Regions from separate parts of the Homo sapiens genome. Here regions 1 and 2 are each linked to region 3. Evidence: fine-mapped expression QTL. A gene starts in region 3. Each other region holds a variant in brackets. All regions are shown on one strand. Distances are from middle to middle.

The links.
Region 1: its variant is fine-mapped to the expression of RIPOR2 in whole blood (TOPMed, PIP above 0.99).
Region 2: its variant is fine-mapped to the expression of RIPOR2 in whole blood (INTERVAL, PIP above 0.99).

Annotation. Positions count from the first base shown.
Region 1 is chr6:24,813,823-24,822,006 of GRCh38, forward strand. RIPOR2 (RHO family interacting cell polarization regulator 2) reads right to left here. Exons shown (of 22, transcript NM_001286445.3): 20 at 4,720-4,803. Among named protein-coding and RNA genes, the nearest start is that of ARMH2, 19 kb to the left of the region's middle. RefSeq lists a silencer at 7,092-7,220. The variant C/T (reference allele first, on the strand shown) is at 3,910.
Region 2 is chr6:24,995,566-25,003,749 of GRCh38, forward strand. It overlaps a transcript of RIPOR2 not described here. Among named protein-coding and RNA genes, the nearest start is that of RIPOR2, 64 kb to the left of the region's middle. The variant C/T (reference allele first, on the strand shown) is at 3,461.
Region 3 is chr6:24,931,032-24,939,215 of GRCh38, forward strand. It overlaps RIPOR2 (RHO family interacting cell polarization regulator 2), which reads right to left and starts at 4,929. Exons shown (of 22, transcript NM_001286445.3): 1 at 4,807-4,929. The coding sequence starts at 4,867. It overlaps LOC105374981 (a long non-coding RNA gene), which reads left to right and starts at 2,944. Exons shown (of 3, transcript XR_007059514.1): 1 at 2,944-3,033; 2 at 3,215-3,339. RefSeq lists an enhancer at 5,642-5,811.

The DNA.
Region 1 (8,184 bases), 120 kb before region 3:
GATAGCTCTTATTATTTTGAAATACGTCCCATCAATACCTAATTTATTGAGAGTTTTTAGCATGAAGGGTTGTTGAATTTTGTCAAAGGCTTTTTCTGCATCTATTGAGATAATCATGTGGTTTTTGTCTTTGGCTCTGTTTATATGCTGGATTACATTTATTGATTTGCGTATATTGAACCAGCCTTGCATCCCAGGGATGAAGCCCACTTGATCATGGTGGACAAGCTTTTTGATGTGCTGCTGAATTCGGTTTGCCAGTATTTTATTGAGGATTTTTGCATCAATGTTCATCAAGGATATTGGTCTAAAATTCTCTTTTTTGGTTGTGTCTCTGCCCGGCTTTGGTATCAGAATGATGCTGGCCTCATAAAATGAGTTAGGGAGGATTCCCTCTTTTTCTATTGATTGGAATAGTTTCAGAAGGAATGGTACCAGTTCCTCCTTGTACCTCTGGTAGAATTCGGCTGTGAATCCATCTGGTCCTGGACTCTTTTTGGTTGGTAAACTATTGATTATTGCCACAATTTCAGAGCCTGTTATTGGTCTATTCAGAGATTCAACTTCTTCCTGGTTTAGTCTTGGGAGAGTGTATGTGTCGAGGAATGTATCCATTTCTTCTAGATTTTCTAGTTTATTTGCGTAGAGGTGTTTGTAGTATTCTCTGATGGTAGTTTGTATTTCTGTGGGATCGGTGGTGATATCCCCTTTATCATTTTTTATTGTGTCTATTTGATTCTTCTCTCTTTTTTTCTTTATTAGTCTTGCTAGCGGTCTATCAATTTTGTTGATCCTTTCAAAAAACCAGCTCCTGGATTCATTGATTTTTTGAAGGGTTTTTTGTGTCTCTATTTCCTTCAGTTCTGCTCTGATTTTAGTTATTTCTTGCCTTCTGCTAGCTTTTGAATGTGTTTGCTCTTGCTTTTCTAGTTCTTTTAATTGTGATGTTAGGGTGTCAATTTTGGATCTTTCCTGCTTTCTCTTGTAGGCATTTAGTGCTATAAATTTCCCTCTACACACTGCTTTGAATGCGTCCCAGAGATTCTGGTATGTGGTGTCTTTGTTCTCGTTGGTTTCAAAGAACATCTTTATTTCTGCCTTCATTTCGTTATGTACCCAGTAGTCATTCAGGAGCAGGTTGTTCAGTTTCCATGTAGTTGAGCGGCTTTGAGTGAGATTCTTAATCCTGAGTTCTAGTTTGATTGCACTGTGGTCTGAGAGATAGTTTGTTATAATTTCTGTTCTTTTACATTTGCTGAGGAGAGCTTTACTTCCAACTATGTGGTCAATTTTGGAATAGGTGTGGTGTGGTGCTGAAAAAAATGTATATTCTGTTGATTTGGGGTGGAGAGTTCTGTAGATGTCTATTAGGTCTGCTTGGTGCAGAGCTGAGTTCAATTCCTGGGTATCCTTGTTGACTTTCTGTCTCGTTGATCTGTCTAATGTTGACAGTGGGGTGTTAAAGTCTCCCATTATTAATGTGTGGGAGTCTAAGTCTCTTTGTAGGTCACTGAGGACTTGCTTTATGAATCTGGGTGCTCCTGTATTGGGTGCATAAATATTTAGGATAGTTAGCTCCTCTTGTTGAATTGATCCCTTTACCATTATGTAATGGCCTTCTTTGTCTCTTTTGATCTTTGTTGGTTTAAAGTCTGTTTTATCAGAGACTAGGATTGCAACCCCTGCCTTTTTTTGTTTTCCATTGGCTTGGTAGATCTTCCTCCATCCTTTTATTTTGAGCCTATGTGTGTCTCTGCACGTGAGATGGGTTTCCTGAATACAGGACACTGATGGGTCTTGACTCTTTATCCAACTTGCCAGTCTGTGTCTTTTAATTGCAGAATTTAGTCCGTTTATATTTAAAGTTAATATTGTTATGTGTGAATTTGATCCTGTCATTATGATGTTAGCTGGTGATTTTGCTCATTAGTTGATGCAGTTTCTTCCTAGTCTCGATGGTCTTTACATTTTGGCATGATTTTGCAGCGGCTGGTACCGGTTGTTCCTTTCCATGTTTAGCGCTTCCTTCAGGAGCTCTTTTAGGGCAGGCCTGGTGGTGACAAAATCTCTCAGCATTTGCTTGTCTATAAAGTATTTTATTTCTCCTTCACTTATGAAGCTTAGTTTGGCTGGATATGAAATTCTGGGTTGAAAATTCTTTTCTTTAAGAATGTTGAATATTGGCCCCCACTCTCTTCTGGCTTGTAGGGTTTCTGCCGAGAGATCCGCTGTTAGTCTGATGGGCTTTCCTTTGAGGGTAACCCGACCTTTCTCTCTGGCTGCCCTTAACATTTTTTCCTTCATTTCAACTTTGGTGAATCTGACAATTATGTGTCTTGGAGTTGCTCTTCTCGAGGAGTATCTTTGTGGCGTTCTCTGTATTTCCTGAATCTGAACGTTGGCCTGCCTTGCTAGATTGGGGAAGTTCTCCTGGATAATATCCTGCAGAGTGTTTTCCAACTTGGTTCCATTCTCCACATCACTTTCAGGTACACCAATCAGACGTAGATTTGGTCTTTTCACATAGTCCCATATTTCTTGGAGGCTTTGCTCATTTCTTTTTATTCTTTTTTCTCTAAACTTCCCTTCTCGCTTCATTTCATTCATTTCATCTTCCATTGCTGATACCCTTTCTTCCAGTTGATCGCATCGGCTCCTGAGGCTTCTGCATTCTTCACGTAGTTCTCGAGCCTTGGTTTTCAGCTCCATCAGCTCCTTTAAGCACTTCTCTGTATTGGTTATTCTAGTTATACATTCTTCTAAATTTTTTTCAAAGTTTTCAACTTCTTTGCCTTTGGTTTGAATGTCCTCCCGTAGCTCAGAGTAATTTGATCGTCTGAAGCCTTCTTCTCTCAGCTCGTCAAAATCATTCTCCATCCAGCTTTGTTCTGTTGCTGGTGAGGAACTGCGTTCCTTTGGAGGAGGAGAGGCGCTCTGCGTTTTAGAGTTTCCAGTTTTTCTGTTCTGTTTTTTCCCCATCTTTGTGGTTTTATCTACTTTTGGTCTTTGATGATGGTGATGTACAGATGGGTTTTCGGTGTAGATGTCCTTTCTGGTTGTTAGTTTTCCTTCTAACAGACAGGACTCTCAGCTGCAGGTCTGTTGGAATACCCTGCCGTGTGAGGTGTCAGTGTGCCCCTGCTGGGGGGTGCCTCCCAGTTAGGCTGCTCGGGGGTCAGGGGTCAGGGACCCACTTGAGGAGGCAGTCTGCCCGTTCTCAGATCTCCAGCTGCGTGCTGGGAGAACCACTGCTCTCTTCAAAGCTGTCAGACAGGGACACTTAAGTCTGCAGAGGTTACTGCTGTCTTTTTGTTTGTCTGTGCCCTGCCCCCAGAGGTGGAGCCTACAGAGGCAGGCAGGCCTCCTTGAGCTGTGGTGGGCTCCACCCAGTTCGAGCTTCCCGGCTGCTTTGTTTACCTAAGCAAGCCTGGGCAATGGCGGGCGCCCCTCCCCCAGCCTCGTTGCCGCCTTGCAGTTTGATCTCAGACTGCTGTGCTAGCAATCAGCGAGATTCCGTGGGCGTAGGACCCTCTGAGCCAGGTGTGGGATATAGTCTCGTGGTGCGCCGTTTCTTAAGCCGGTCTGAAAAGCGCAATATTCGGGTGGGAGTGACCCGATTTTCCAGGTGCGTCCGTCACCCCTTTCTTTGACTCGGAAAGGGAACTCCCTGACCCCTTGCGCTTCCCAGGTGAGGCAATGCCTCGCCCTGCTTCGGCTCGCACACGGTGCGCACACACACTGGCCTGCGCCCACTGTCTGGCACTCCCTAGTGAGATGAACCCGGTACCTCAGATGGAAATGCAGAAATCACCCGTCTTCTGCGTCGCTCACGCTGGGAGCTGTAGACCGGAGCTGTTCCTATTCGGCCATCTTGGCTCCTCCTCGGTGGTATTATTGTTCCGTTTAGTA[C/T]TTGTTTACATTCTAGCTCTCTCCCTGCTCACGACACCTCCTTATGACAATCAAAACTGGTTCTCTGCTTAATAAAGAGAGCTTGCGGGGAAGGATCTGGGAATTCAGTGGCATACTGAATTTAGTACTTCTTTTCAAATCTTATTTGTCCTTGCTTTTTGTTGTTCACAATAAAAATGAGTGAAATCACCATACATCTCATCTCCCTTTTAAAATAAGATATACTTTCCTTTTCTCTCTCTCTCTCTTTTTTTTTGAGACAGAGTCTGGCTCTGCCACCCAGGCTGGAGTACAATGGCACAATCTTGGCTCACTGCAACTTCCTGGGTTCAAGCAATTCTCCCTCCTCAGCCTCCTGAGTAGCTGGGATTACAGGCACCTGCCATCATGCCCAGCTAGTTTTTGTATTTTTGTAGAGATGAGGTTTCACCATGTTGGCCAGGTTGATCTCAAACTCCTGACCTCAGGTGATCCACCGGCCTCGGCCTCCCAAAATGCTGGGATTACAGGCATGAGCCACTGTGCCGGCTAATAAGATGTACTTTTCTAATACTGACCTAAAGGCAAACTGGTTCCCTTGGGCTAGTGCAAAACATGATTGCTTTCTGCCACTTATTGACTTTAACAAAACAAAGTCACATGTAATTACTGTTTAAGGGAGAAAAATACTAAAACTAACATACGGTGCAAAGAAGACAAGAAATACTGCTAAAAAAGTACTTTCAAACATGAAAGAAAAGCTGTTATATACACTCAGCTTAGCCTGGCTCCAAGCTGAGCTGCCAGGGGAGCTCCAAGGCTGGGCTTTACCTCAAGGATTTTCAGAGCCAGGCAAGCTGCTTTCTGGAGCTGGAGGTTTGTCTTTGTTAGTGCTTCACAGTAATAGAGCAAGGCCTGAAAGAGAAGGAGGGACCTCATGAAGGCATTTTGGTTTGTTCGTAGTTTAAGAGGTATACCTCATTCTTACTCTCTGAGATAAACTATAGCATATAACCTACACATTTTGCACTACCTTCAGAGCAAGAAAAAAAAAGCCATTGAAATTCATATTAATTAAAAGAGTCGTTTATTCAATAAATTGATCCCTTATGTTCTCCTAGATCTACTATGACTCTAGGAGAACATAAGGGATCAATTTATTGAGTAACATAATGACCGTGGGCTTTTATTGGCCACCTAAAGGTAATTTTTTAAACCAAGTAACGAGGAAGGCAAAATTTCTCAGAGCTGTTTTTGATCCCAGATCATTAACTTTTTCTTTTAAGGTGTTAATCCCTTTCTTTATGTCCCATCATAAAGGCCTGCAAGCTCCTGCCCCTTGTCTCATGTGTCATTCCAAGATTTGAAATATTCTCCTAGAGTCCATGACTCTAGGAGAATATAAGGGATCAATTTATTAAATAAAATTGGGAGAGAGTTATGATTCTGGCTTTTAAGGAGCCCTTAGATGTAGTAGAAATGCTAAGACTGTTTAGAAGGAACTGAAGAGAAGAAATGTATTAGGTCCCATAAGAAATCTACAAGGTAAGTCAGTCACTTGGAGAAGAGACATCTTACGGAGTGCCAGGGTAAGTTTCACAAAAATGTTTGAACTGGAATGGAAATGATGGCTTAGATTTCAGTAGGGAAGTTGATTGAAAAAAAGGTATTCAGTCAGAAATAAGGAAGACAGGAGGAGGCAGTACATTCCAGTGAGGAGGGTGGTAATGTCAGTTTGAGATTTGCTGAGTTTGATACATGGCAAATGAATGCTCTGTTTAAAAAATCTCTGCATAAAAGTACATTATCTTTTTTTTTTTTGAGACAGAATCTCGCTCTGTGGCCCAGGCTGGAGTGCAGTGGTGTGATCTCGGCTCACTGTAACCTCCATCTCCCGGGTTCAAGAGATTCTCCTACCTCGATTACAGGTGCCCACCACCACGCCCAGCTAATTTTTTTTTTTTTTTTTTTTAGTGGAGACAGGATTTTACCATATTGGCCAGGCTGGTCTTGAATTCCTGACCTTGTGATCCGCCCACCTCGGCCTCCCAAAGTGTTGGGATTACAGGCGTGAGCTACTGCACCCGGCCAATTGTCTTATTTTTACCAAGCTAATTTCTTCCTAAATGGTTGATAAAATGTGTAGTACTTAACATTAATTCAAATGAATAAGAATCACTATATGTCATATTGGTTCATAGGAAACTTAATTACTCTTGAAGAGAATTGAGGGTGGAAAGAGAGGACTAACTTTTGATTTTGTTGGGCTATATTGTGCATTTCTTGCTATTTGTCTGAATTACTTTTATTTTCTATTTTTATTTATTTATTTATTTTTGGAGATGGAGTTTCACTCTTATTGCCCAGGCTGGAGTGCAATGGCACAAACTTGGCTCACTGCAACCTCCGCCTCCCGGGTTCAAGCGATTCTCCTGCCTCAGCCTCCCTAGTAGCTGGGATTACAGGCGGATGCTATGATGCCCAGCTAATTTTTGTATTTTTAGTAGAGACAGGGTTTCACCACGTTGGCCAGGCTGATCTCAAACTCCTGACCTTGTGATCCGTCCGCCTCGGCCTCCCAGAGTGCTGGGATTACAGGCGTGAGCCACTGCACACGGCCCCTGTTTTCTCAGTTTTATAGGACAATTCCATTTAAAAAAATTGAAAATATAATTTATATACCATAATATTTAGACTACAGCATGTATAATTCAATGGTTTTTAGTATATTCACAAATCATCCCCATCATCTGATTTCAGAATATTTTCATTACCCCAAAAAGAAATCCTGTACCCATTAGTAGTCATTCCCAAGACCCTTTCTCTCCAGTCGCTGGCAACCACTAATCTACTCTCCATTACTATGGATTTGCCTACTTTGGACATTTCATATAAATGAATTCACACAATATGTAGCCTCCTATGTCTTGCTCTTTCATTTGGCATAGTATCTTCAAGGCTCATCTAGGTTGAAGGATGTATTAGGATTGCATTTCTTTTTATGGCCAAAAAATATTCCATTATATGGCTAGACCACATTTTATTTATTCACCAGTTGATGAACCTTCAGATTGTTTCTACTTTTTGGTTATTATGAATAATGCTGCTATGAACATCTGTGTACAAGGTTTTTTTGTGTGGACATATGGTTTAACACTCTTTTTTTTTTTTTTTTTTTTTTTGAGAGAGTCTCTCTTGGTAACCCAGGCTGGAGTACAGTGGCACCATCTCAGCTCACTGCAAACTCCGCCTCCTGGGTTCAAGCCATACGCCCACCTTAGCCTCCTGAGTAGCTGGGATTATAGGTGCCTGCCACCACACCCGGCTAATTTTTGTATTTTTAGTACGGATGGGGTTTCACTATGTTGGCCAGGCTGGTCTTGAACTCCTGACCTCAGATGATCTGCCCTCCTCAGCCTCCCAAAGTTCTGGGATTACAGGCGTGAGCCACCGCGCCCAGCCAGTTTAACACTGTTTTTTTTTTTTTTTGAGATGGAGTGTTGCTCTTGTTGCCCAGGCTGGAGTGCAATGGTGCAATCTCGGCTCACTGCAACCTCTGCCTCCCGGGTTCAAGCGATTCTCCTGCCTCAGCCTCCCAAGTAGCTGGGATTACAGGCATGCTCCACCATGCCCAGCTAATTTTTTGTATTTTTAGTAGAGATGGGGTTTCTCCATGTTGGTCAGGCTGGTCTCAAACTCCCGACCTCAGGTGATGCGCCCGCCTCGGCCTCCCAAAGTGCTGGGATTACAGGCGTGAGCCACAGTGCCCAGCTCTGTGGCTTAACACTCTTAAAGTTTTAACACTCTTAAAGGAAACAAAGATATGCAGTATAGGTTATTACAGCAAGAACAAAAGCAGTAACAGTAACTAGCTCTTTACTAGACCTAAATAGTTAGAGCCTGGGCTTTGGCTTTTGAAAACCTCTCTCTGGCTTGCCTTTTGGCCTCTACTCACTTGAGGGTGAGCAGCCAAAAGGGGAGGAAATAAGCCTCAATCCACAAGTGGGCAGCTACACAGGGACTAGCCTCCAGTACAAAAGGAACAAGGTGACTGTCCCTGAAGTGCCACTTGCCATCAACCCCCTCCAAAGCTACCATTTCCAGAGGTGGATATACACCAAGGTCATCTTTAGCATTTCATCCCTATTGAAGCATTGTTATAATGCAAACATGCCCGAGAGGAAGGACAATTTAAGTTGTGATCACCCATTTAAGTCTTGGAATATGTGGTTTTGGTAAGGGGTAAACCTATGGTTTGATAGTTAGCCTTCAAGTCCCTTGATATGAGTAAAAGAG
Region 2 (8,184 bases), 65 kb after region 3:
ACTTGGAATGAAGGTGGCAGGGCTGCAGTCTCGCACAACTCCACAAAGCTCTGCTTACAGAGAATACAACATACAAGGTACCTCTTATATGTTCTCAAGTCATTCTTTATATTGTGAACCATTTTAATAAAGTTCATAGCAATTCCCCAAGGGATATTTTATATCTGTATAAATACAGATGTTTCTATGAAGATCTAACATCCCAAATCTACTCTCAAATCTGCAACTAGAGTGATTTTTTTTTTTTTTTTTTTGAGATGGAATCTCGCTCTGTCGCCCCAGGCTGGAGTGCAGTGGCGTGATCTCAGCTCACTGCAAGCTCCGCCTCCCGGGTTCATGCCATTCTCCTGCCTCAGCCTCCCTAGGAGCTGGGACTACAGGCGCCCACCACCACACCCGGCTAATTTTTTGTATTTTTAGTAGAGACGAGGTTTCACCGTGTTAGCCAGGATGGTCTTGATCTCCTGACCTCGTGATCCACCTGCCTCGGCCTCCCAAAGTGCTGGGATTATAGGCGTGAGCCACCACGCCTGGCCTAGAGTGATATTTTTAACCTAGAAAATAAAATTCCTTTATTTCCATGCTTAAAGTCTTTCAATGTTTCCTTATTGTCCCTAGACAAAGTGCAAACTACTTATCATTTTTCATGTGGTCTTTCACCACCTGGATCCTACATATTTTTCAGGTCTCATCTATGAACTATGGGCAGAAAATCTACGATAAACAAAAGATCAAAAAAATTAGAAAAAGACAGCCTGCTGTTATTTGATTTATGACCCTGGGTTATTGCACAACAGGAGTTGATGAATGCATCTTTTAATTACAGCCCTCAAGTGTGCAGAGGAGGTGGGGATCACAGTGAGCTCACCTCCTCAGATCACTTCTCTGTTTAACCATCGCTGGCTGCCTCTCGTCTATACAGTCCTGACCCCTGAGCATGCAGCTCTTCATGAATGGCCTTATGCCCTCAAGCCCTGTGCTGCCCCTTTCCCTTCCCTCCCACCACTGTTTCTGCTTCCTTTAACACCAGCTAGTCCAACTGTGTCCAACCACGCTGATGTACTTGACATTTCCAATCAACACTGTTTACTTTCAACACCCAGGTGAGAGGCTTCTCTAAGAACCCCTTCCCCAATTCTTCTGAGCCCTTGGGAAAAGTAAGCCACTTCCTTTAGTGTGATACTTCCTCTGCGTGACTCAGGCACTTTATACAGGCTTCTATTATAGCACTTACTGTATTGTTCATAGTTAACTTCTCCATTGCACTAGGAGGTCCCTAGAAGGCAGAGCCCTTAAACTTTTCAATTTTGTATTCCTAGCACATAGCATAATGGACAACTCACAGGCGGTACAGAACAACTACTTGGAAATTAATGACATTTTATGGGTCTAACTTGTTTTGGAATGGGTTTTCCTTAGGGGCAATCATACATACGCTGAAGCGGCTACAAGTGTTCCTTCTCAATCTCACAGTTTCAAATGTGAATTACTAACTAGCGAGGATGGAGTCCAATGATTTTCAACCTTGTCTGCTCATTGGGCTCACCTGCAGAGCTTTTAAAACTCCCAACATGCAGGCCATAGCACACAACAATGAAATCAGAATCTCTGTTGGTGGGATGCAGGCATTTGTGTTTTAAAAAACTCCCCAGGTGATTCTAATATACAGTTAAGCCTGAGAACCACTAGTTTGAGTGTTCCTAGGTAGTTAATTTAAAAAACCTTTTCCTGTATGCTCACTATGTAGTAAACACTGCGTTAGGCATTTGGAGGGGAGGTGGGGTGGGAAGGTAGTATTTGGCCCAGAAAGAGGAAGAGCCTCAGAATTTCTATATTAGACATAGTGCTTGCTTTTAGGAAACTGCAGTCCTTACAGCCTCCATGAGCAATAGCAAATGGTGATGGTATCTAAATTGTATGGTTTAAATCAAGGTTTCCCAACAGTGGTATTTTGGGTTAGATAATTCTTGATTGTGGGAGGCTGTCCTTGGCATTGTAGGATGTTTTGAAGCATCTCTGGCCCCTACCCACTAGATGCCAGTAACAAGCAAAAGCACTCCTCACTTCCTACTGCCACAGTATATAACAACCAAAAATGTCCAACATGTCCAAATGTTCCCTGGGAGTAAAGTCATCCTTTGTTGAAAACCATTGATATAGAGCTCAGTGTAGCATCCTTTGCAAGACCCCCAGGTGATCTGTATGCACATTAAAGTCTGAGAAACACGCACTGGTTTAAAGCAGTGATTCCCGAAGTGTGGCCCGTGAGCAGCATCAGCATCATCTGGGAACTTGTTGGAAATACATCCTCAGTCCCCACTCCAGACCTACTGAAACCAAAACTTTGCTTCGGTAAGTCCTTTGGGTGATTCTCACACTTAGGTTTCAGGGCCACTAACTAAAGGGGAAAAGGAGATTGGATGCACTGGAGCAATCAAAAAAGTCTTAGGAATAGAGCTTGATTTGGGCCTTGAAATTGAATAGGCGGTGGGGAGGGTATTCCAGGTGCAGAGAACAGCATGAGAGAGGATTTTCAGATGTAAATTAGCCCACACTCTTAAACTGCCAAGCCCCTCTTTTTCTCCTTTTCCCCTTAACTTCCTCAATCTGTTTGTTTTCTTGTGTTTTGGATAGAAAACGGTCTCCTCTGCAATTTATACTCCATGATGTGTTCATCAGCTTGCTCAAGTAATTCTTTGAGAATCTCAACAAAATGATCACTTGCAAAAACACAGGAGTGTGTTTTTGAAAAGTTGTGAATAATCAAATTTACCATCAGACATATGTACAAATCAGTACATATTTACAAATGTATTTCTCATTTACAAGGATTTTATATTGCAAACCATTTTTATAAAGTTAATAGCAATCCCCCAAGGGATATTTTTGGTGACTATAAATACAGATGTTTCTATCAAAAAATCTAGCATCCCAAATCTACCCTCAAATCTGCAACTAGAATGATATTTCTAACCCAGAAAATCTGATTCCTTTGTTTCCATGTTCAAAGCCTTTCAACGTCTCTCCATTGCCCCTATACAAAATGCAAACTGCTTACCATTTTTCACATGATTTTTTACCACCTGGATCCTATATATTTCTCATCTATAGACTATGGGCAAAAAAAATCTACAATAAACAAAATATCAAAAAATTAGGTGAAGACAGGCTGCTGTTATTTGTTTTATGACCCTGGGTTATTGTGGAACAGGAATTCCAATCGGCCCAAGGTTGGCCAGGACAGACCTTGTCAATGAGAGTTGACAATGGCACGGGAACAGATTGGACAATGTGGAACTTTATATGCAGTCATTTTTTTTTTTTTATTGTAGAGCTTGTATTGACTTCTTCCACAAACTATAGGAACATTTTTGGGTGAATGTACACTATAGGGATGCATATTCCTTTTGCCTCAGGCTCCAGGGTGACTCCACATAGCACTGAATCAGAGTGTTCCTTC[C/T]TCCTAATTGATCTGGGAGATCAAATGAAGGCTGATAGGGAATCTTGGGGATGTTGATTTGGATGTGAGACAGGAAACTTACAGGGTGGTTACAGGAGAATAAAAATTCCAGGCAGCAGTTTCACATAACTAGAGGCTATGGGCTGATAAGACCCTGAAAAACCAGGTGTGGACCAAGCTGACTGAGACTGACTGGACCCAACATGGAGCTGGATCCTACTTAGGTTTCACCTAGGACCTTATTATATGCTCATTAACATACAAATCACACACCTGCCAGTGCCATGACAGTTCCAAGAACATCTATACTTGCTGGAAAAGTGGGCGGCATGACAATTCTGAGAAATCTCCACCTTTTCCCAGGAATTTTCGTGAATATTCCACCCCTTGCTTTGGTTAAAGAAACCCATGAAGGTAGCAACCCCAAACCCCCTTGTGCATGACTCTTGTCTACAACCACATTCCCTTCTCTTGAGTGTGTAATTTTCCCTCTGCAACAAATCTCTGTACTTTCACTATTTTCTGACTCATCCTTTTTTTTTTTTTTTGAGACAGAGTCTCGCTCTGTTCCCCAGGTTGGAGCACAGTGGCATGATCTCGGCTCACTGCAAGCTCCACCTCCCGGGTTCACGCCATTCTCCTGCCTCAGCCTCCCAAGTAGCTGGGACTACAGGCGCCCACCACCACGCCTGGCTAATTTTTTTGTATTTTTAGTAGAGACAGGGTTTCACTGTGTTAGCCTGGATGGTCTTGATCTCCTGGCCTCCTGATCCACCTGCCTCAGCCTCCCAAAGTGCTGGGATTACAGGCATGAGCTACCGCGCCCAGCCCTGACTCATCCTTGAATTCCTTCTTGCAACAGTGTCAAGAGCCTGGACACCAGCTGGAGTCGAGGTCTCAACCATGTTTGGGGACCTCTCTGAGCCCATCAGTATCAGGTGGTGGTGAGAGAAGGTCAGCCAGCTGACTGAGATTTTTAGCTTCAAGTATGCCTTGCCCAATTCCTTGCCACCCTTCATCTTTTGCCTTCATGGCCCCAGCCACCCAGGGCCATTTGCATATCCCCAATACCATGGTCTCTCTCAAGTCTAGTCCTATGCACACATTGGCACTCTTGCCTAGAAGGTTCTTACTGGTGTCTTTTCACCTGGACAACTCTTACTTTCACTTCACTCTCCATTAGAGGTTGCTTCCTCCAGGAACCCTTTCCTGACCAATGAAGGTGTCAGGAAGTTTGGGCATCCTTCATGTTAGCTCTGTAGCACTCCATGCTGACCACTCGCGAAAACTCACACAATGCACTCCAATGTAAGAGTTCACCCATCTTCCTCCCCGACTGTACTGTCAGGTCTGTAAGGGCAGGGAGTGTATCCTGTGCACTGTTGTATCTCCTGAGCCCAGCCCTGTCCCTGACACATAGTAAGTGCTCAATTAGTCATTTATTAAATGAATAAGTGAACTCATGAATATCTGGCTTGAGGGGTTTTATATCTGTATTTTAATCTACAGTTAATGCAGCACTTCTTTTTCCCAAACTAAAATTAATTAACAATGTTAGGCTACATTGTTCATGTTTTACATACAGCCAGCCTCTATTTTCTTTCTGTACTGCTTTTTCCTTTTTTTTTTCTTCCCGTGCTGGCTTTTCTTTCTGCTCTTGGTGGGGCCTGGAGTATCTCTGTGGAAAAGTAGAAGGTTCTCACCAAGGAATCCAGCACTGAGCCTGCTGCCCCGAAGTTCCCCAGCATTGCTGCTTTTGTTGTTCCCCAGCATGCTGGACCAGCAGCAAGGAAATACTGACTCAAGTTCTTGGCTATAAACATCCGTGGAGAAATGCTTTCTCCAGAGATGGACCCATAAGTGGAGGAGGCAAAGAACATAATTCCTGTATATTGACCAGGCATCATTTACCACTTAAATGGAGGAGGGCCAGTCAGTATGTTCAGGAAAGGGGCTGCGGACCTCGATTTTTTTTCAGGTGTAATTAAAGATACCATTCCCTAGCGATGTCCTGCTTAGAATTCAATTAATCTGGTGCATGTGCACACACATACGCACATGTACATATACATGCACATATATACGTGTAAACACACATATACTCATGTATCTATATGCTTATACACATATTTATATATTTGCATATGTGTATGTATACCATACATAGGTATATATGCATATGTAGCTACATATAGGTATACACATATGCATTTATGTAATCATACAAATACAGAGACAATATACATATTTTCAGTCCTAAAATTTTAATAACTTAGGTCAGGGGTTAGCAAACTTTTTCTGTAAAAGATCAGAGAGTAGTTGGGTGCAGTGGCTCACGCGTGTAATCCCAGCACTTTGGGAGGCTGAGGTGAGCGGATCACGAGGTCAGGAGTTTGAGACCAGCCTGGCCAACATGGTGTAACCCCGTCTCTACTAAGAATACAAAAAAATTAGCTGGGCGCGGTGGCGGGCACCTGTAATCCTAGCTACTCAGGAGGCTGAGGCAGGAGAATTGCTTGAACCCAGGAGGCAGAGGTTGCATTGAGCCAAGATCACGCCACTGCACTTCAGCCTGGGCGACAGAGCGAGACTTCATCTCAAAAAAAAAAAAAAAAAAAAAATCACGGAGTAAATATTTTAGGCTTTGTGGGCCTTACTTTCTTTTTCCTTTCTTTCTTTTTTTTTTTTTTTTTAAACATAGTCTCGCTCTGTCGCCCAGGCTGGAGTGCAGTGGCGCGATCTTGGCTCACTGCAACCTCCGCCTCCCGGGTTTAAGTGATTCTCCTGCCTCAGCCTCCCAAGTAGCTGGGACTACAGGCGCGTGCCACCATGCCTGGCTATTTTTTTCTTTTTTTTGTATTTTTAGTAGAGATGGGGTTTCACCATGTTAGCAAGGACAGCCTCGATCTCCTGACCTTGTGATCCACCCGCCTCAGCCTCCCGAAGTGCTGGCATTACAGGTGTGAGCCACTGCGCCCAGCCTGTGGGCCTTACTTTCTCTGATGCAACTATTCAGCTCTACCATTGTAGTTGAAAACAGGCATAGACAAATTATTAGCAAATGAGGTTGGCTATGTTCCAATAAAACTGTATATACAAAACAGCAGTGAGCTGCACTAGGTATACCAATCATAGTGTGCCAACCTTTTCCTTAGACTATAGGTATGACTAGAGCATTCAGTAAATGGCATTTAAAACAAAATTACCTAAACGTTAGGACAACCATATAAGTATTGGGTATTTTCTTACCAAATACTATGGTAAAGTACAAATTCTGTGGACAAGAACATAACGTATGTCCTCCAACTCGTAGACTCTACATTCATAAAAATTAAGATAACAACCACCTGTTACAGAAGGACTTATCCAAATGGTATGTATTTCTTCATTGTTCATCTTTTTGTTGTTTAAATATGTTCAACATGCTTTAGGAAATAAGGTCCACTGTGAATCATTCACATTTCCTTATCTATTCAGTGAACGCTCAAGAAGTGGAAGCTTTTTTACTTCCTGCACGTTTCCATAGAAAGCAAAACCTGTATTTCATGTTTTCTCCTTACAAATACTGAAGGAACCTGCAGAAGCAACAGTGCCCTTTAAAGACAACCAGGTGTTTTAGATATACAACATGTTATTTCTTTCTGAATCACATTCAGCTTTTTGTCACAAAATCCCTGGACAAGAATGAAAGCAGGGACTCAGCTCCACCTGGCACGGTGTCAATCAAAAATACCACATGTAGAAGTGATGGCAGCCACAGGAAAGTGGCAGTCCGAGGTGAATGAACGTCATGGTGACAATTGCCTGAGCATTGTCAAGTCTGAGAAAGATTAAACAGCCATCTTGAAATGGAATGTGTGGTTCGTCCGAAGTTGCAGCCGGCAATGTGCCTTTTGCAATTTGCAAAAGATCCAAGTACAAAAAGTGATTTAAGACAAGTTCATAAGGGTTGCAGCTCCTGCGAATATTTCTGCAGTTAAAACATGGAACATTTTTATGTTTTATATTCCATGGAACATTTTATGGTTAAAACATGGAACAGGTTTTATAAAACATGTTTACGATTCACTTTTATTTTTATCAAGCGGATTAGATTGTAGAGAGAAAAGATTGGTGAGTCACTTCTCGACCGTTCACATAGGGTCGAATCTTTAAAACTTTCTAAGTAACCTTTCTCAGAGCATGCATTTCTAAAACACAAAACCATTCAGCAATCATGGAAGAAAATGCAGAAAACATATTTTGACTTCAGCCTTTGAGAGTATCATTGGGTAAGAGGTATCTCAAGATTTATTTTTATTTAACTCTTTCCTCTTTGAAAGAGGTCTACATGAATTATCAGTTTTTCAGAATTAACACATTATTATTATTATTATTATTATTATTATTATTATTATTATCATCTCCTTTTTCTTCTTTTCGAGACAGGATCTCATTCTGTTGCCCAGACTGGAGTGCAGTGGCGCAGTCATGGCTCAGTGTAGCCTCAACCTCCCTGGGCTCAAGTGATCCTTGCACCTCAGCCTCCCAAGTAGCTGGGACTACATGCGTGCACCACCACACCTGGGTAATTTTTCTATTTTTTGGTGGAGACGGGGTCTTACTATGTTGCCCAGTCTGGTCTCCACCTTCTGGGCTCAAGCTATCTGCCCACCTTGGCCTCCCAAAGTGCTGGCATTACAAACATGAGCCACCATGCCTGGCCTAAAATCTCCTTTAAAGGT
Region 3 (8,184 bases):
AGGGTATGACTTAACCAGTCTGAACTTTCAACATTTACTAGTTTTGTACATAATATGAATTTAATTGCTTTTTTCCCCTTTCTTCTTTCTATTAATTTTGGAAGGAGCAAATACAATTCAGGAAACAATATCAAAATATTCCAGATTATACCAGATTGCATAATTATTTACCTATTAAAAGAAAAATACTACCTTGGTTTTGTAAACAGCCTACATGGAAAGACAAAAAAAATAGGTATTTATCCTAATTACAATTCTTTTTGTGTGTGTGTGTGTGTTAAGTGTTTTGTAGTCTTCTTGCTCCCTCTGACCTGAAGTTCCCTTTGAAAAGGAAAAAGTGCTAACTTACTTGGCTTGGAGAAAGGAGAGAGGCTTGGTTCAAAAGTGACTGCCAATTTTTTTCCAACCAGCTGTTAGTCTCCTTAAGAGCAACAGGCAGCTAATGGTTGAATGGACTTCCTTTTGCCAGTTCATCTCCATCTGGGAGAGTTCCCCTCCTTTGTGGAGGTTGAAACAACTTTCTCAGACACAGTTATCCAGGACAGAAGTATTCTCATGCTCAGTTGCACTCTACCAGCTCTGGGGGACATTTGAAAATCTGACAAATGCTTTGTAGTTTCTTGTGATCTTCAAGCATAATCTTAAAAGGCATGTAAGTGTCCAGGAAATACAAGAACCTGAGAAATACTTTGCACACTTACTGTGAACTTGGGGTGTTTTATTATTCTAATCATTGCACCTGACAAAAGATTACTGAGCAGTGCTGAAAATGGAGGCGGGGCGGGTTGCGTTTCTAAGGAAAGAAGCAATTGCAGCTTTAACTTGTGCCAAGGAGTAATTTTGGCTGCTAAAATACTCACTGACCACCACCTGGTGAGCCGTTTGCTCCCACACGTGAATTCTGTTCTGTTCTTGAAAGCAGGATAGGAACCTACACTGTGCATGGCCCTTCTTTTTTCCTTTTTTCAATTGTCATCATCATTGTCATCATCATCATCAGCAGCAGCAGCATTGTTGTAGTCATTACCATTATTACCCATCCAGTTATTTCCACTAACACTGACCAGACTGGCTGTCAAGATCACACAGTGACAAAACAGATGAAAGCCCTTTAATTTGATAAGTTTGAAAGAACAATGGGAAAAGAGTCTGTAAGGCTAACTACTGGTTTTTCACTACCTTGATAATCAAATGAATCATTTCTCCAGGAAAGATTAAGCCTACTTGAGAGTAACCATTTTCTAAATGACGTGATGATGTTGTTAGGAAAGCAAACTTAAGACTGTGTGTGTGTGTGTGTGTGTGTGTGTGTATGAGAGAGAGAAAAAGAGAGAGAAGAAACAGATGGAGAGACAGAGAGAGAACAGACATTGGGATTTGCAGTGTGTAGGTGAATCCCTTTTCTTTCTGTCTCTCTTTCTCTTTCTCTCTCACTATATGCAACCTGTTTTAGAACAAGAGCAGTTACACACCAATGCTCCGAAGTTCTGTGAACCTTAACATTTCCTTTAACCACAAAAAACAATTGCTGAAGCAAACAGGATCTCAGAAAGGCAGTTTAAAAAATACATTGTGAGGATGACTCATTGACTCATTTTTTTTCTTCCCAGATCTTTATAGTGTCCATATATCTAAATGGATTTATATATACTTTTAAGCAAATGCACCTAAATTCTAAATCTGTGTAACCTCTAGGAGAAAGGGATCTTAAAAATGTGTCAATTGCAAGGAAATATAGTTGCCCTAATAACAAGCTTCTGGGCATTTTCCTTTTTTTATGTTACGGAAAACTCATTGTGCCAAAAGCTTTCTGCTTAGGCATGTTAAGTGAGCTGAAAGTATGCGTGAATCCTAGAACAAGCATGAACTTTTACAGGTAGATACATCATTTTGAAGTAAAGACTGGAGACTGGGTAGTAGAATGCTCAGAGAATGTGTAATCAGTCCCCTTGTTTCAGAAGAAGAATGAGGCTCAAAGAAGATAAATGACTTGCCCAAGATCCTCCAGCTATACCACAGCAGGGGCAAGGCTACAACTCAGACTCCTAACAACTTGTTCAGTGCTATATCTGCCACGTTAAACCTCTGAAAAGTTATTTATAAACTGAAGTTCTGTAAATAAGTCCTATTTTGAATCTGAGGTTAACCAGACGTGAAAAAATGGTCACTATTCTATAAACCCATTTTTGTAAATAGACAATAGGGATTCATATGTATTAAGTACTGACCACTATTCTAAAAGCTTTCCCTATCATAACACTTAAGCCACACACAGCCATATGAGGTTTGGACTCCATTTTATAAGTGAGTAAACTGAGGCACAGAGAGATTAGGTAACCTGCTTAAGGTCATAAGTGAATTGGTTGGCAAAGCCTAGACCGTGCAATTCCAGAGCTGAAGCTTTTGACTGTTACCCCACACAGAGCTTGCTTAAAATGAGGCAGCAGCTGGACATGCTTTCACATAAATTGCCAAACATGAGCCACGGCTCTGAAAACTGAATAAAAATACACTGGATGTTGGCCTTGCAAGGATTTTCTCTTTAATCTTTAGGGATTAAGTTAAATGAGATAATCAGTTTGGAAAAGATAAAGCATACCACATTGAAGTGCAACGCAAACATTATGCATCTACTATGAAGATAATCTGTACAACCGATAGGTATTACTGTCCCACTTCACCATTGAGGAGACCAAAGTTAGCTTGTATGGGTACCACGAAGCAGAACCAGAATCTGAGTCTGAATCTCGTTTGACTCCCAACTTATCAACCTGCACTACCTCCCTCACTTCCCACCTCAGAGCTAGCTGGTTACCTAGCTACCTGGAACCTGGGGACCTCAGCCATTCCACTACAACATGGTTAGTGAGGTTACAATAATCACCTTGGAAATGATGAATGCTCAGGAGAGAGAACACACAGGTTCATCCAGCCCTGCTTGGTCTTAACGCTTCCCTTCAGGATGGGGCCACGCATAATCCAGAGTGCAGTGCATCAGCCTATAGAGGGCGCTCTTAAGTATCATAGCCAGATGTAAAAGAGCAAAATTCCTATAGGCAAAGAAATGTGGGCTGGGCGTTTTGGAATGCCATTCCTGGAGGGAGGTGTGGGTGAATGATTGCCAATTTTTCCGTTCTAAGCTTATCTTCATAGTTGTGAGCATTTTTCAGGTCCTCAAAAGAGTTAGTATCTAAGTATAAATTTTCTCTTTAAGGTGTTTGCTTAAAGAGGAAACATCTTTAAGAAGTGAAAGCTGAAGAATGGGGCCTAAGATCAAACTTCAAGGTGTTGGTGGCCTAAACGCCTGCCATCAAAGTAACACAACAGAATGATAACTTGGTAAACAGCAGCGAAGCTCAATAGATATTCTTCAAATTGATTTAAGTTGTGATAAAAACCCAACTAATGATTTTAAATATTTCTGTAGCTAGAACAACATAGCAGAAAGACAACATCAAAATATTAACCATGATTACATTCTACATGACTAGATTACAAGGGGTTCTTTGCGACACTCTAATTTTTCTTCAGCGAACTTGTATTGCTTGGGTAATTACACATACACAAAAACCTTACTACTGTTCCTTTTAAAAAATTACTGAATAGAGTTTTTTAAAAAATTGCTAGACGTAGTTTCTTGCGGAAAATAATCAAATTCACGAGATTCTTGAGTCCAAATTTCCTTTATTTAGGTGGCTCCAAATTCTAAAAAAGCTTTTGCCTATAGCCCAATCTCATAGGCAGCATTTGAACAAAACATCCATCCAATGACTAGATCATCCCTTTAAAATCGCAACCTTTACAGTTAAATTCCAGTGGATAGGTCAAGTCATGGAAAAGCTGCAAGATGAGAACAGAAAACTGAGCAGTGCCAATGGGGATTGGAAGCTACCAGGGCTCCAGTATCCCGACTTGGGAAAAAAGAAAATTGGAAAAGGGAATGGAGGGTTGGAGTGCCAAGTATGTGTGAGGAAGAGTAAGAGAGAAGGACCCAGGCCGGGCATGGTAGCTCACGCCTGTAATCCCAGCACTTTGGGGGGCCAAGGAGGGTGGATCACCTGAAGTCAGGATTTCAAGACCAGCCTGGCCAACATGGCAAAATCCCATCTCTACTAAAAATACAAAAATTAGCTGGGCATGGTGGTGGGCGCCTGTAGTCCCAGCTACTTGGGAGGCTGAGGCAGGAGAATGACTTGAACCCGGGAGACGGAGGTTGCAGTGAGCTGAGATTGCACCACTGCACTCCAGCCTGAGCAACAAAGCAAGACTCTGTCTCAAAAAACAACAACAAAAAAAAAAAAAAAAAAAAAGAGAAGGACCGAGAGAAAGATAGACAGAGAGAGAGAGACAGAGAGAGAGAGAGACAGAAAGAGAGAAGTGCAAATCAAAGCAACATGGTACCATGAAAAACCACTCCTGGTCCATTTATTTAACTTCTTCCCTAGCAGCCCTGCTGTGCTCAAACCACTGTGACAGGCTTTCCTTAAGGTGTTAGACAAGAGATAGCACAGAAGAGAGACAAGGCAAAAAATTTAGTACTATTTTCCAGCCTAAACTAAACCTTTATTTTAGTCATGACTTTAAAAAATGTATTTGCGGGAATGACTCAACCCCTTGTTCCACCCCTTGCCTTGTGTATTCCTTCAGTGCCTAAGTTGATATTTGCAGCCACTACCTCACTCAGGATGCTTTGTTTTTATCATTTCAAAATACTCAAGTCCTTGCCCAAGCTGGGCAAAAGTGTCCAGTGGTGTCAAAACAAAGCAAAGCAGACCGGAGAGCCTCCTGCCAGAAAGATGCATTTACCTTCACCAAAAACATCATCCTCTTCATCGACCAGGAGCTCCTCAGCATCAAAAAACTGCATCTTGGAGAGGACAGGCGCGAGAAGCAGCAGGCAGCAGCCCCGGCAGTCTCAGCAGTCACACTGCCGACCGAGGTGATTTCCTTTCCTTGGGTTGCCCAAGCCCTCTGGAGGGCAGCTTCCGCATCTGCCCTGAAGAAAGCAGTTTCATTCATATGAATAGGCTTCTTGAGCCTTGTGAAGAGTGAATCCCAGGTGGGGTAATTCTCACCACTGAGGAGAAAGAATTTTTTGAAGAGGGCTGCAGATCCGGTTGGATATGAATACAGATATCACTCAAAGTCTGAATGCAATGAATTCTATTTCAAAGCAACAACTTTCATATTTCCTTAAAGAGGAAGGTGGGTGCTTAACTTTCTTGCTTATGAATTTGAACACAATGGGTTTTGTTGAAAGAGGGAGTTCATATTTCTCATATCTTGGTTTTGCTTCAATTACAATTTATCTGAAAGTAAAGCAAGCCACTATGTTAAACCAAAGCAGGCATTTAGAGGACAGAGCTTTTATTTTGCTCAGTAATAGTTGCATTTTTCTTTTCTTTTCTTTTCTTTTTTTCAAACCTCTTGCATTTAAGGATTGGAAACTTTACAGCATTTAAACCAAACTGAACCATATCTAGGCTTTATGTGGCTCGATTAAATCTATAGTCAATGAATAGATAACTGGTTTTGGTCAAACATCTTGCATTTCACAATATTTACTCAGTTTGATACTTCAGACTGTATCACTAAAGGAGAAAGAAGAAAATGTAACTCAAAAAGCAGTCCTCCCAAAGGGATGAGTGAACACTGAGCTTCTACGCGAGCACCATTGGCTGGCATCACCATATCGAGCTACCCAACGTGTGCCAAATTCTGTCTGGCTGCACAAACAAACACACATCTCTCTGAGTAATACTGAGACTTCATTTCGGGGTTTCCCAGAGCACTCCACTGTGTTGTAAGATCTCTTAGGTGGCCAGAAGCTTAGAAAATGCAAATGGAGATGACAGTGAGGAGCTGTTGACCCAAGGTGTTTATTTTTGGCACTTTATTTACTGCATGGTTTTGAAGATACTCCCAGTGTTACCCTAGAGAAACTGTCCCCTCCTCCTGTAACTGCAACCTTGAAATTGCACCATTTTCTCCCAGAAGAGACTGTGGACAACAGGGTTGGAGAAATCCAGCAGTGAGAAGGGATCACCCCAGAGGAATTCAGGAATCAGACACTGAGGGTTAACTGAGCAGCAACAGTCAGTTCATCCCTGCATTGGTGGCTGCAGCAGTTCCCAAAGACAGTGTACAGCTTGGGTCCTGCTGGGATCACCAATTGTTGTCAATCAGGGCTGGAACCATCCTTAGAGGAGAGCTTGGAAATGTCTGGGGTGTTTTGGGTGGCACAATGACTGGGGGTTATTACTGGTATTTAATGTCTTAGCACTCAGGGGCCCAGGGATATCAACCTTACCATAATGCATGGAACAGTAGCTCAACAGGAAGAACTGTCCAGCTCCAAATACCAATAATGCCCACCTTGAGACACACTGACAGGCAGAGAACTGGAGTTATCCTTTTCTCTAGCTCTCCTTTGCATCTCCCCTTTCTGACCCTTTTACCACCCCCTACCATGATCCCCACTTGAATGATGTTTCTGGACAAGGGTTGCACTTAGTTACATAAATTAAATTAATTAAAATGGGCCTAGGTGTAGGAAATTTGGATGTGGACTAAAGCTCTCTTTTGTGTGGTTGGGATAAGAGGATGGGTGTCCATTTTGATAATCACTACATTTCTCAACTACTGTCCTATGTCCTTTAATCTCCACAACTTCATGAGGTGGGTGCTATTATCCCATTTTACAGATGAAGCAATGGGGGCTCTGAGGGCTTGAAAAACATTCCTAAGATCAGGCAGCTAGTGAGTGGCAGATTTGACTAATTCCAGAGCTCACTCTGTTACCTCATGTCTGGACAACTTATGGGAGTGACTGCACACAGTCCAGTTCACTGCAGCATCCCCGTGGCTCTTGGGGACCTGCACTACCTCCCTCACCTCCCACCTCAGAACTACCTGGTTACCACGTGAACCTGAGGGCCCTAGCTATTCCACTTCAAAAAGTTAGCATAACCTCTGTAGGCCTGTTTCATTTTAAGTGGGTGGAATTGTGTCTCCCCTGTTGAATTCATATGTTGAAGTCCTAACCCCCAGTACCTCAGAATGTGACCTTACTTAGAAACAGGGCCATTGAAGATATAATTAGTTAGGATGAACTTATATCATATTGGAGGAGGATGGGTCCTTAATCCAATATGACTAACTTCCTCATAAAAAGGAGAGATTTAGACAAAGACATAGACATAGGGAGGATAGTATGTGAAGATGAAGGCAGAGATCCACAAGCCAAGGAACACCAAAGACTGCCAGTAAACCACCATGAGCTAGGGGAGAGGCCTGCAAGAGATTCTCCCTCACATCCCTCAGAAGAACCAATCCTGCCAACACCTTGACCTTGGACTTCTAGCCTCCACAGCTGTGATGCAGTAAGTTTCTGTTGCTTAAGCCACCCAGTTTGTGGTACTTCATTACAGAAGTCCTAGAAAATAATATACTTTCTCATTTGGCTTGTTTTGAGGATTAAGTAGGATAATTTATGTAAAGAAGCTGACACAGTACATGGTACACAGTAAATACCCAGTTATAATTATACGCCTAAGTCTCTCACAGGGACGCTTAGGATATTTCCCAAATTGAAGGCTCAATGGGGATAGAGAATGAGAAGTCACCACACTCCATATAAAACCTCAATAACCCTTAGGAAGTTTCCCTCAGTCTCCTCTTCTCCAATTTAGATATCTCAGAAACACAGCTAATCATCTCAAAGAACAAATCACAAATGCTACCACGAACTCCTTGAAAGCACAGAGGATAGAAAACATGGTTCTTGCTCTCCAAAGTTTACAATTACCTTAGAGAGATATGACATACATGCATGATGTGTTAACTAAAAAGAAAAATTAATAAACTACATATGCATGCATCAATATGGATGAGTTTCAAAAACATAATATTGACTTTGAAAGGTCTCAGAAAATTATAAATGGTATAATTATATTTATATGAGTGTCCAAAATGAGCAAATAAAAAAATGTAGGTAATCGCTAACACAGAGTGCCAGCAACAGTTTTAAGTGCTTTGATTCACTTAATTCCTATATCAACCCTAAGATATAGATATATTTATTATCTCTATTTTAGTTTAAGGCCCAAGAGGTGAAGTGATCCACCCAAGGTCATACATTTGGTAAGTGGTAGAGGTACTGAGATTTGATCCCAGAGTCCAAAC